3 linked regions of the Homo sapiens genome follow. The protein of the gene in region 1 purifies or fractionates together with the protein of each later gene. This does not show direct contact. Each region holds a gene or a part of one and is shown in the gene's direction. Other genes may lie near its edges.

Region 1 (3,751 bases):
CAGAGCCTACCTTCACCACCTATATCCAGAAGGGGAGCTTTTTCAGAAACAGGGCAGCAGTGGGGTGAAATTTTCTTAACCCCTAAGACTGCCTTCAGTAGGAACAAGCTGGCTTCTGTGATTAGGTGAAGGGATGGGGGAAGATTTTATGCACAGCCTAGTTATCAAGGGGATGATTTGCCGACATGTTTGAGAACCCCCTAACCTCTAACCCTCATTGCTGTCTTGCCCCAGTTTGGGGTGCCAAGATGGAAGTCACCTTTCTGGGCTTTCTCCTGGAGATAGCTGGGGCTTATGGGTGGCTTTCAAGGCTGGGGCATGGCAAATCAGGGGCCAGAGAGCAGGGGAGCTTGGGACTCAGGTCTGTAACTGCCCAGCCCCTTTTCTCTGCTCTTGTTTCACTCCACCATCACTCACTCACTCCCCACTCCCCCACCCATGGGGAGGAGACCTTTGATGAATTCTTCCTCTCCTTCCCACAAAAGACAGACCCAGTGAGTGAATCAGGCAAAGTGCTTATAATGTGTGTTGTGTGAGCGTGGCCTTGGGAGGACATGCGTGTGTCAGGGATGAGTTGAGGTGATATTTTTATGTGCAGCGACCCTTGGTGTTTCCCTTCCTCGGTGGCTCTGGGGTATGTGTGTGTGGGTGTGTGCGCCTGAGTGAGTGTGTGTGCTTGAATGTGAGTGTGTATGTCAGTGGTTTCTACTTCCCCTGGGATGCTGACCCAGGAATAGTGGACATGGTCACAGTCCTATGTACAGAGCTTTCTTTTGTATTAAAAAAAAATACTCTTTCAATAAATGTATCATTTTTGTGCACAGACTGTGGGGTCTTTGGTTCTGTTTTTCTACTTAGGGAGGGATGGGGGTATGAACGCGAGGCAAACTCCTAAAATTGCTGCTCTGAGTAGCGATCCGGGCTGCTTGATGAGAACGGTAATGCTAAGGTGTGCTTTGGGCTGTTTAATTCTATACGATTTAATTTAAGGAAAGTTTTGCGGGGCCGAGGACCTTCTCCCTGTGCGTGGCTTCGCTAGGTGTTAAGGCCAACGCAGAGGAGCAAATTTTAATTAACAGGAAAAGTGACACAACTAATCCAAAGCATTGCTGAAGGGTTTGGGAAACTCATGGGCACCTGACCTACTGAAAAGTCAAAAAGGGCAGCCTTAAGGTGGGAATGTGGGTTACCATGTTTCGTCAGCATGATCGCTGTGATGGGAGAGGGAGGATTAGGAGGGCCGACCCAGTGAAGAGGAGGGGGCTTCACAGTTGACTGGATGGAAACGGCTTCTTCCTGCTGCTGAGAGAGGAGCAACGTGACCTCGATCCCAGGCTCCTCCGGTAGCGCGCCCCCACGCCCCTCTTCCAGTGCAGCCGCCCGCGGTAGCACGCATGCTCCACTCGCGCGCTGTTCCGCCACGCTCGGCGTGGGCCGCGGTGGGACCCGTAGGTGCCCGGCCGTGCGTGCACTCGCCGTGTGACCCGGAAGGGAGCTCTGAGGAGGCGGGGCCAGGACGGCGGGACCGGCCGCTGGGTCCCAGCGAGGGCTGAGCCGGGCGGTGGGAGGTGAGAGGAGAGTTCTGCGCCGACCCAATCCCTCCCCTTCTCCTGTCCCCTCCCCGGTCCTTTAGCCACTGTCCATGGGGCTGACGAAGGGAACCAGGTCTTGCTCTCTGAGATTCACTGGATCTTTTCAGCTTTTTTGGACCGCGCCCCCAACCATCCTTCCCCCTCCCCCCAAACCCGTTCCCTCTGCGGTGCTGGCCTCCTCCACCTCCCCACGGCTCTGCAAGCTTGGGCTTGACCTTGCTATCTGCTGGTCTCATCCATGCGTCCAGAGCTCACCCCCACACCTCAGTTTATTGTTGCTCTTCTAGGCCGACGTTACACCTCCTACCTCCTCCTATCCGATTCTTTTACTTCCCCCTGCTGCTAATCAGTTGCCCGCTGGCACATCGCTGGCTACCATCCAGGCTTGCCCCCCATCCTAAGTGGACCCCTACCTCCATTGAGGTCCACATCCATCTTTCTCCCTCCTCTTCACCTCTACTCTCATCTTCTGTCCCTGTACCCCAACATGACCCCTGCCCTGACCACTATATCTTCATCTGGGTTTACCTTCTTCCATTCTTATTCTCACTATTCCCTGTTGCCCCTGCACTGCTTCATATCACGCATATCTTTCCTGATTATTCCACTCCCATTTATAATCGGTCTTAATAACTTTGCATTTATTTGATGACTCCCCTACCTTCTCCATCTAAGAATAATAACAGATTATGTTTACTGAACACTCTTTATGTGCTAGATGCTGTTCCAAGTGCTTTACATACATGATCCTACTAAATTCATGAAGTAACTATGAATATTACTACCATCTTGCAGAAGAGGAAACAAGCTCAGAGGTTAAGTAACTTGTTCCAAACTATGCAGACAGTGAGACAGAAAGCCAGAATTCAGAGTCACATTTATCTGATACTGAAGTCTCTGAATATTGCTTCTCTCCTGACCTCATTTCCTACCTTTAACCCCATGATTACCACCTCTATCTTATCTACTTAACTTACTTAAATCCTTACCATACATGCAGTATAAGGGCAGGGTGGGACCTGGTCATCTTTCCCATAATTTTATCTGGTCCCTAGGGCCCTCCCCCTTTCACAAGACTCGAATATACTTTTCCTATCCAGTCATTTGCCCCAACATCCCAGCCTTTTGTCATCTCCATTCTCTATATCTGCCATGGCCCACCCTTTACATCCACCTTGCAGCTTTACTCTGTCATTTATGCTCCCTGTCCTGCCCCTCCGCTATCCTACTTTTCCTCACATGTTCTGATCCCACTGCCTCACATGCTGCTGTCCTTCCTGTCCACCCATGTCATTCTTCTAAGTCCTAATCTGTAACCCTCAGCCACCCTGCTATCCTGCCTAAACTGTCTTGCTTAACTGTCACTCTGTTTATTGTTACTTTGCCTATTACTGTTTTAATTCTCTTTTTGTAAACTCCCCTTCCTTCCTTTCTTCCTTCCTTCCTTCCTTCCTTCCTTCCTTCCTCTCTCTCTCTTTCTTTCTTTTTTTCTTTTTTTTGACAGAATCTCACTCTGTTGCCCAGGCTGGAGTACAGTGGCGCGGTCTTGGCTCACTGCAACCTCCGCCTCCTGGGTTCAAGTGATTCTCCTGCCTCAGCCTCCTGAGTAGCTGGGACTACGGGCATGTGCCACCACACCTGGCTAATTTTTGTATTTTTAGTAGAGACGGGGTTTCACTATGTTGACCAGGCTGGACTTGAATTCCTGACCTCGTGATCTGCCCACCTTGGCCTCCTAAAGTGCTGGGATTACAGGCGTGAGCCACTGGGCGCAGCCAACTCTTCCATTTCTTAAACCCCTTCTTCATCCCCTCTCTGTCTTCACTCCATTCTCCTTCTGTTATAAATCCCAAAGTATGTTCAGCTATTTATTCCATCCTATTTTTTGCCTTTTCTGTTTGGCCTCCTAAATTCTACCATGCAGCCTACCGATCACCACCCACCTTCTCTGTGTCTCAAGATTCCACCCCCTCCATGTATTTTTTTTCTTTTCTCATACTGCCTTATCTTTCTCCTTGTGTATCCCAGGAGGTCAGGATGGTGGGGGAACGGCATGCTGGGGACCTCATGGTGCCCTTAGGGCCTCGGCTGCAGGCATATCCTGAAGAACTCATTCGACAGAGGCCTGGGCATGACGGGCATCCTGAATACCTGATCCG
Region 2 (3,651 bases), about 12 Mb from region 1:
CAGGGATTGAACTGCTGAGAGTGCTTTATTAAGTCTATAATTAAATACAGGTGATATTTAATTGCAATACTCACTATGCAAGTGCCATTACCCTGTAGTTCTCTGATAAAATTCATTTATAGATGGTTCCTTCACAAGTATTCCATGCAAATAGCTCTTATGATAAATATCTCTAAACCGTGGCTGGAACATAGCCTCTCCACCAGAACAATATAAAGTATATTTAGTAGTAATCTTAAGTCTTGTACATAATATTGTAACCTCATTGTTCATTCTGTTGTATGTTTTGTATAATATATTTTTCTGTGTGGTATCTGGCTATCGATTAGTCCTGTAATGGTAATTAATTATAAATAAGTTTCACTTCTTATTTCCAATTTTTTTCTTCAGATTAATTTATCTATGTTTTCATGGTTTGGTTTTCATGGTCCTTTCGAGGTCTGTGATTTCAGAGTTTACATAGTTCCAGAATGAATTTTTTACAGTTCCAAAATATTTATTTGCATAGGTGTAGCTCAGAAATAGGTAGTATTTTAAAAGTACTTTATGCATTTTAACTTCCAAATAGGTAACAGGTGTTTAACATCACATATATAGGAATTCAAAAGTTACATTTTAAAAATTAAATGAATAGGTTTGCAGGAAACTTGGATTATGAACAACTAGTAGTTACCTATGACTTAACAATTACAAATTACAGATGTAATTTATCATGTAATCACCAGATACTTGTTCCTTCATTGGCTGGAATTTTCAAGTGAAAACTGTACTTCAATAAACCTTAGGAAACTGTAAGCATAAGGATTGAGTCTTTTAAGTGAATGCAAATCTTATTTTTTAATTTTTTTTGCTAACAATGAGCATTATGTGCAAAAGAGAACTTCAATGAGTGTTGAAAGTTATTAATTAGTGGCATGATATCATGAATATGAAGTGAGCAACTTTATGAAGATTTGTCAACCTTGGCACTGTTGACATTTTGGGTGGGATTATTTCTAAATATGGATGGCTGTCTCATGCATTGTAGTATGTTTAGCAGCATCCTGGGTCTCTAATCATTAGATGCTAGTAGCCCTCCTCCGCACAAGTGATTCTATTTAAAAATGTCTCCAGATGTTGTCAGATGAGGGACAAATCTTCCCTTTTGAGAACCACTGAACTTGAATGAAATGTGATTGGGAAAAAGATGACATATCCTAGAATGATTGAGAAATTTATGAAAGTTTTAGGATGTATCCCAATACATGTCAATAGATTAATTTTAATTAAGTAACAAAAGAAATTTTATTTCCCCATGCGATAGCTTTTATACTAGCAGACAAGATGGGTGTTCTTCCTTTTTCTCTTGGAGAAGAGAATATTTTTGCAAAACTTCACCATTATACTATAGGGCAGGAAGACTGCCATCACCAGAATTCAGATGCTGCCATCCCCAAAGTTCAGATGCTGCACTGTGGAGCCTAGGATCCAGGTATAGTTCTAGTTGTCTGGGCTTGGATCAAATTATGACTCAAGCTGAGGGCTTTCCAAAAGACAGAAAAGAACATGTTCTATTTTTATTCCTGTATCATATTTAATCTTTGGGCTTTCTGTACTGTTAGACTTTCTTTGTAAAACTTCTGAGCCCAGAGATAGGAACAGGATTGTCTCCACTAAGATGGTAAATGGAGGCACCCTTTGTGTTCCATGCTCCAAGTTATCTTTTTAATGCTTATAGCACATCATAAATCTGTACCTTGAATCCACACAATGGAGATCATGACTTCAAAAGACTGGAAAGTCCATCATCTGATTGAGAGAGCCCATTCCAGTATCTCACACAGTGTGGAGTAGTGACTGAATGATTGAATGGAGAGCATTCTGTGGGCATTGTGAGAGATGGAATGTGAGCCTGCATAGGCAGATTTTGACTCCTAAGAGAAATTTCTGAATTATCTTTCATGTCTTAAATTTCATCTCGTATACTCTGTCCAGTCACTGAATCTCAAGGCTCCTTCCTTAAACCATCTCTGGAATACTCTGTCCACTTCCTCACTGCGTTTTTGAACACTGAAACACTCTCCTAGCTACCTGTCTCTTCTTCAGTCCCCTGCTACTGCCAGAATTGTTTCAAACAGAAGTTTTGTTGAATCACAAAACTTTGTGTCCGTCCATTCTTGGCTTTATCTTGTCTATTCAATTTTATCTCTTACTCCTGTTAAAAGGAACCTGTTTTCCAGCATGCCAGGTTTTTTTTTCTTTAATTTTTTTCTTCCTTCATAATTAGTGAATGTACCAAACTCTCATATCTCTTCCGTGATTTTGCTCATGTTTTTATCCTTGTATGGGATGGAAATATTTCTTCTTGCCACCTGATCAGATTCTTACTCATTGCTCCGGGTCCAGCCGAAGCCCACCTCTTGCTCAGGGCTGTTCATAACTCATTTGCTCCATATTGATCTCTACTTGCTTTTATTCTTAAAGCACTGAATATAGGCATTACTCATTTTGGCCTTTAGCAATGTATGGCTTTCTTCAAAGTGGTAAGTAATGTTTTTTGCGTACAATTTGCCTCCTCAACTAATTAATAAATTCCTGAAAGACCAGTGTTTTGTGCTCTTAACATTACATCTAGCATATTCTGTATGCCTGACAGGTACTCAGTAGAGACATTAATGGCTGGGTAGGCATTGATTGTTTTCTAATTCTCTTTTAATTTAAATTGAGATACCTTGGAAAAGGAAAATCCAACAGCAATCTGTAAGGGAAATCTGTGTAGCTTATTTGTGATAGATGTGTGAATTGTGGTGCTATTAATGTCATTTTGGATATGAAATATGTGTCATTTTGAGCTTCTGGTAATGGAAATGTGTAAATGAAAAAATAATAGTTGATATGTATCATAAAACATTCTGTTACCGAATTTTAACTTGATCTTGATTTTCTTCTTTTCAAATACCAGATACTTCTCACCACTGCATGAATGGACATTTGAAAGTGCCATAGCCAAACACTTGCAAGCATGGAGACCTCATCAATGCTTTCCTCATTGAATGATGAGTGTAAATCTGACAACTACATTGAGCCTCACTACAAGGAATGGTATCGAGTAGCCATTGATATTCTGATTGAACACGGGTTAGAAGCATACCAAGAATTTCTTGTCCAGGAACGAGTTTCAGACTTTCTTGCTGAGGAAGAAATTAATTATATTTTGAAAAATGTCCAGAAAGTTGCACAAAGCACAGCACATGGTACTGATGATTCCTGTGATGATACCTTATCTTCAGGGACCTACTGGCCTGTTGAGTCTGATGTGGAAGCTCCAAATCTTGACTTAGGCTGGCCATATGTGATGCCCGGACTCTTAGGGGGCACCCATATAGATCTCCTTTTTCATCCACCAAGAGCACATCTACTTACGATAAAAGAAACTATTCGGAAGATGATAAAAGAAGCAAGAAAGGTAATAACATTTCTATTTTGAAATGAAAAATTTGAAACATGTAGAAAAGTAGAGAGAGTAATAACACAAATATGTATGTTAATAAAAGAATCTCTATATGTATAGGCCATGCCTATTGTTTTTAGGAAAGTACCTATGGATACACAGGAAGGTTGTATTTCCTATATCTTGCATATATCCAAGAGAGTGGCATTAGGTCTCTGCTA
Region 3 (3,751 bases), on another chromosome or scaffold:
CAATGTCCAGATGACCCAATATCCCATGACAGCGTATTCTTTTAAGATAGCAGGCTGGGGTTGAACTCCTGACCTCCAGTGATCCGCCCGCCTCGGCCTTCCAAAGTGGTGGGATTACAGGCGTGAGCCACCGCGCTGGCCTGAAGTGGTATTTTTTAGAAACCACGTAATCCTTTTTTCAGCTTAATAACCCCCATGGATGTATTTCTGAAGGACTTGGGGTCTCTCTTTGAAAGGCAAAGAACAAGGGAGACAGTACCCGTATCTCGGTAGGAAATTAAATATTTCAAACATCAAATAATTCCAATGTAAATGTATGGATCTTTAAATAATTCTGAGCCTTGAAAGGAATGTGGTCATGCAAGCTGAGTCCAGTGGTATGCAGGCGCAACTTCTAAGAGTTTTCCTGGCCAGACGCGGTGGCTAACGCCTGTAATCCCAACACTTTGGGAGTCCGAAGCAGGTGGATCACTTGACGTCAGGAGTTCGAATCCAGCCTGGCCAACGTTGTGAAACCCAGTCTCTACTAAAAATACAAAACTATTAGCCAGGCTTGGTGGCGCGCGTCTGTAATCCCAGCTAGTTGGCAGGCTGAGGCAAGAGAACTACTTTAACCCGGGAGGTGAAGGTTGCAGTGAGCCGAGATCTCGCCACTGCACTCCAGCCTGGGTGACAGAGAAATACTCTGTCTCAAAAAAGAAAAGAAAAGAAAAGAAAAATCTAAATATAAAAATGAAAGTAATAGATCTCTTCCACAAATGTGCTGGGACAACTAACTGGATATCCACGTGAAAATGAATAATGTTGGATCCCTAACTCACAAAATCAAAAATTTTATTTAAAGAAATTTTAAAAAAGGAGAGAGAGAGAGACGAGGAAGGGAGCGCTGCCGGAGGAGGTGTTACTTTGTCGCCCAGGCTAACTTGGACCCCCCCCCCGGCTCAGCGATCCTCCTGCCACTGCTTCCTGAGTAGCTGGGACCTCAGGCTTTCGCCCCGCGCCCGCATCTCTGCTGTGTTTAAGCAGTAGGTGGTGACCTCACTCCTCCCTGGCCTGAGCACTCCGTCCCGCATCCCAGGGGGAGGCCCTAGGGAAATCTCTGAAGCTGAGGACAGGGTGGACTCTCCTTTCCCAGTGAATGGAGAATAGAAAGGGAGAGGATTTCTATTCTGTTCTGTGGGCCGTCAGCATGAAATCGTATGTTCCACCCAGGCAGGGCTTTGCATTTCACATTCTAGTTTGCATCCCCGTTTCAGACAATTCCAGGGCTTTTGAATCATGCCTCAGCCTTCCTGTCCGGTCTCGCCTCCAAAGCTCGAAAACAAGAGGCGCTGGGAGCGAGGTTGAGAGACGCACGGGTCCCACCCCGGCCCCGCCTTCTGCCAATTCTAAAGGGGAAGGTCTCTCCGCTTCGCGCCCCGCCCCTACCTCGCTCAGGCCCCGCCTACCTCCCCGCGGGTCCCGCCCAGGCCTGGCTTCTGTCCTGCGCGCGCAGATTCGCGCAAACCCGGAAGCGGATCGCATGGAGTGATGGTCCCACCGCAGCGGTGAGTTTTGCTCTGTGTTGTGTTAAGTCTGCGCTTCCCAAGTCCCCGGCGCTTCTGTACCTGGGACGTGGGGTCCCCATAGACCTGGAAATTCTCACCCGTGTTCCTTCACCTAGAGCAAATTTAGACGTCCTCGTCAGAGTCCAGGGGTCGCTTCCTTTTGGGTTTAAAGTCGCCCTGAGGATGGTCCCTTCCCGAATCTTTCTGCTATAGGGCAATGTATACACTTCCCATCGCGTAGTTTCCCTGCTCAAAACCTTTTTCTGACTCCTCCCGACCCGCACTTTTTAAAGTCCTTACCGCGAGGCGGATTCCCGCCCTTGGCGCCTCCCAGTCTTGTCTTAAGGCGCCGTCGCCCCCCACCTCCCTCCTCGTTCCAGGCCCTTATGCTCCCCAGGTCTCCCCACCGCAGTCACCGCTTACCCTGAGCCCGCGTTGGGGAGGTGCCCGGGGCTGTCCTATGACACCGGGTGTTCTTGCCTGCCCTGCACCAGCCCCTGGAAAATGCGCTCCTCCGGGATGCAGGCGTCTTACTCCAAAGCCCTCCTGTGATTGTGTTGGCCAAAGGGATCAGGAGACTGAGAGAGAGAGCAGTAGAAAACCTGAGACAGAGAAAAGAAGAATGAGAAAGACCATAACAGATGGCAAAGTAGAGGATGAGTGAGGGATTTGCCAAGAGAGAGCAAAAATGAAAAAAACAAAACAAAACAAAAAACAGCAGGAGGAGCAGATCCCAGGGAAAAAGAAAACAAGAGCTAGAGAGAGAAGGGGAGAATGAGAGATATGTACAGAATTAGGGAGGGAAGCACAGTAATGAAGAAAGGGGGGCTGGGCGCAGTGGCTCACGCCTGTAATCCTAGCACTTTAGGAGACTGGGGCAGAGGGATTGCTTGAGTCCAGGAGTTCAAGACCGGCCTGGGCAAAATAGTGAGACCCCCCCCCCCATCTCTGTCAAAAAAAAAAAAAATTTAACTGGGCGTGATGGTGCACACCTGTAATCCCAGCTGCTCTGGAGGCTGAGGCAGGAGGATCACTTGAGCCCAGGAGGTCCAGGCTGCAGTGAGCAGAGATCATGCCACTGCACTCCAGCCTGGTCAACAGAGCAGAGCCTGTCTCAAAAGATTAAAAGGGGTGGGGGACTTTGGGTTCAGATGAGTGGGTGAGTTCATTGGATATGATTAGTTGTGATATGTTGACTTCTGTTTATATAATCTAATAACTTAGAACTTGTTTAAATTATACAGATGATATTGAGAATTTTAAAATTCCTATCTATAAGACACATACATTCTGTAAATCTTGGCATTAGAGGTCAGCTTCCACTTGGAATCCCTATTCAGCCAGAGGGTAGTGACTTAATTCAATTGTGAGAGCCTCTCTTCCCTCTTCCCATGGTGAGGTAGGAAATGGGGCAGTGAAGTGGGAGAAAAAAATCACTTTCTGTTATTATGTAATAATTTTAATTTAATTAATTAATTTATAGTTTGAGACAGGGTCTGGCTCTGTCGCCCAGGCTGGGGTGCAGTGGTGTGATCTCCTCTAACTGCAGCCTCGACCTCCTAGGCTCAAGCGATCCTCTTACCTCAGCCTCCTGAGTAGCTGGGACCACAGGCGTGAGCCACCAAGTCCGGCTAGGTTTTGTATTTTTTTTTTGTAGAAATGGGGTTTCACTGTTTCCCAGGCTGGTCTCAATTCTGGCCTCAAAGGATCGTCCTGCCTTGGCCTCCCAAATTACTGGGATTACAGGTGGAATTACAGAGAGGAGCCACCGTGCCTGGCCTACATAGTCGTTTTTTGTTTTTTGTTTTTGTTTTTGTTTTTGTTTTTTTGAGATGGAATCTCACTCTTGTCCAGGATGGAGTGCAATGGCACAATCTCGGCTCGCTGCAATTTCCGCTTCCCAGGTTCAGACTGATTCTACTGCCTCAGCCTCCCAAGTAGCTGGGATTACAGGCATGAGCCACTGCATCCAGCTAATTTTGTGTTTTTAGTAGAGACGGGGTTTCTCCATGTTGGTCAGGCTGGTCTCAAACTCCCAACCTCAGATGATCCACCCGCCTTGGCCCCCCAAATGCTGGGATTACAGGCATGAGCCACCACGCCTGGCCCATAGTACTTTTTAAAAGGGACATCAGGGCGTAGTGGCTCATGCCTGTAATCCCAGCACTTTGGGAGGCGGAGGCAGGTGGATCACAAGGATCACA

What was found.
Region 2: the proteins of CUL9 (region 1) and FAM83B purify together in Homo sapiens (affinity purification with mass spectrometry; one large-scale study listed by BioGRID and IntAct). This does not show direct contact.
Region 3: the proteins of CUL9 (region 1) and ZNF845 purify together in Homo sapiens (affinity purification with mass spectrometry; one large-scale study listed by BioGRID and IntAct). This does not show direct contact.

The regions. Positions count from the first base shown.
Region 1 is NC_000006.12:43,180,682-43,184,432, forward strand, and holds the start of CUL9 (cullin-9), read left to right. Parts: upstream 1-1,514; 5' UTR 1,515-1,568; exon of another isoform or gene 1,569-2,407; intron 2,408-3,620; 5' UTR 3,621-3,629; coding exon 3,630-3,751. UniProt on the Homo sapiens protein: Core component of a Cul9-RING ubiquitin-protein ligase complex composed of CUL9 and RBX1. The CUL9-RBX1 complex mediates ubiquitination and subsequent degradation of BIRC5 and is required to maintain microtubule dynamics and genome integrity.
Region 2 is NC_000006.12:54,867,246-54,870,896, forward strand, and holds part of FAM83B (protein FAM83B), read left to right. Parts: exon of another isoform or gene 1-1,471; intron 1,472-2,941; 5' UTR 2,942-3,001; coding exon 3,002-3,445; intron 3,446-3,651. UniProt on the Homo sapiens protein: Probable proto-oncogene that functions in the epidermal growth factor receptor/EGFR signaling pathway. Activates both the EGFR itself and downstream RAS/MAPK and PI3K/AKT/TOR signaling cascades.
Region 3 is NC_000019.10:53,332,246-53,335,996, forward strand, and holds the start of ZNF845 (zinc finger protein 845), read left to right. Parts: upstream 1-1,503; 5' UTR 1,504-1,547; intron 1,548-3,751. UniProt on the Homo sapiens protein: May be involved in transcriptional regulation.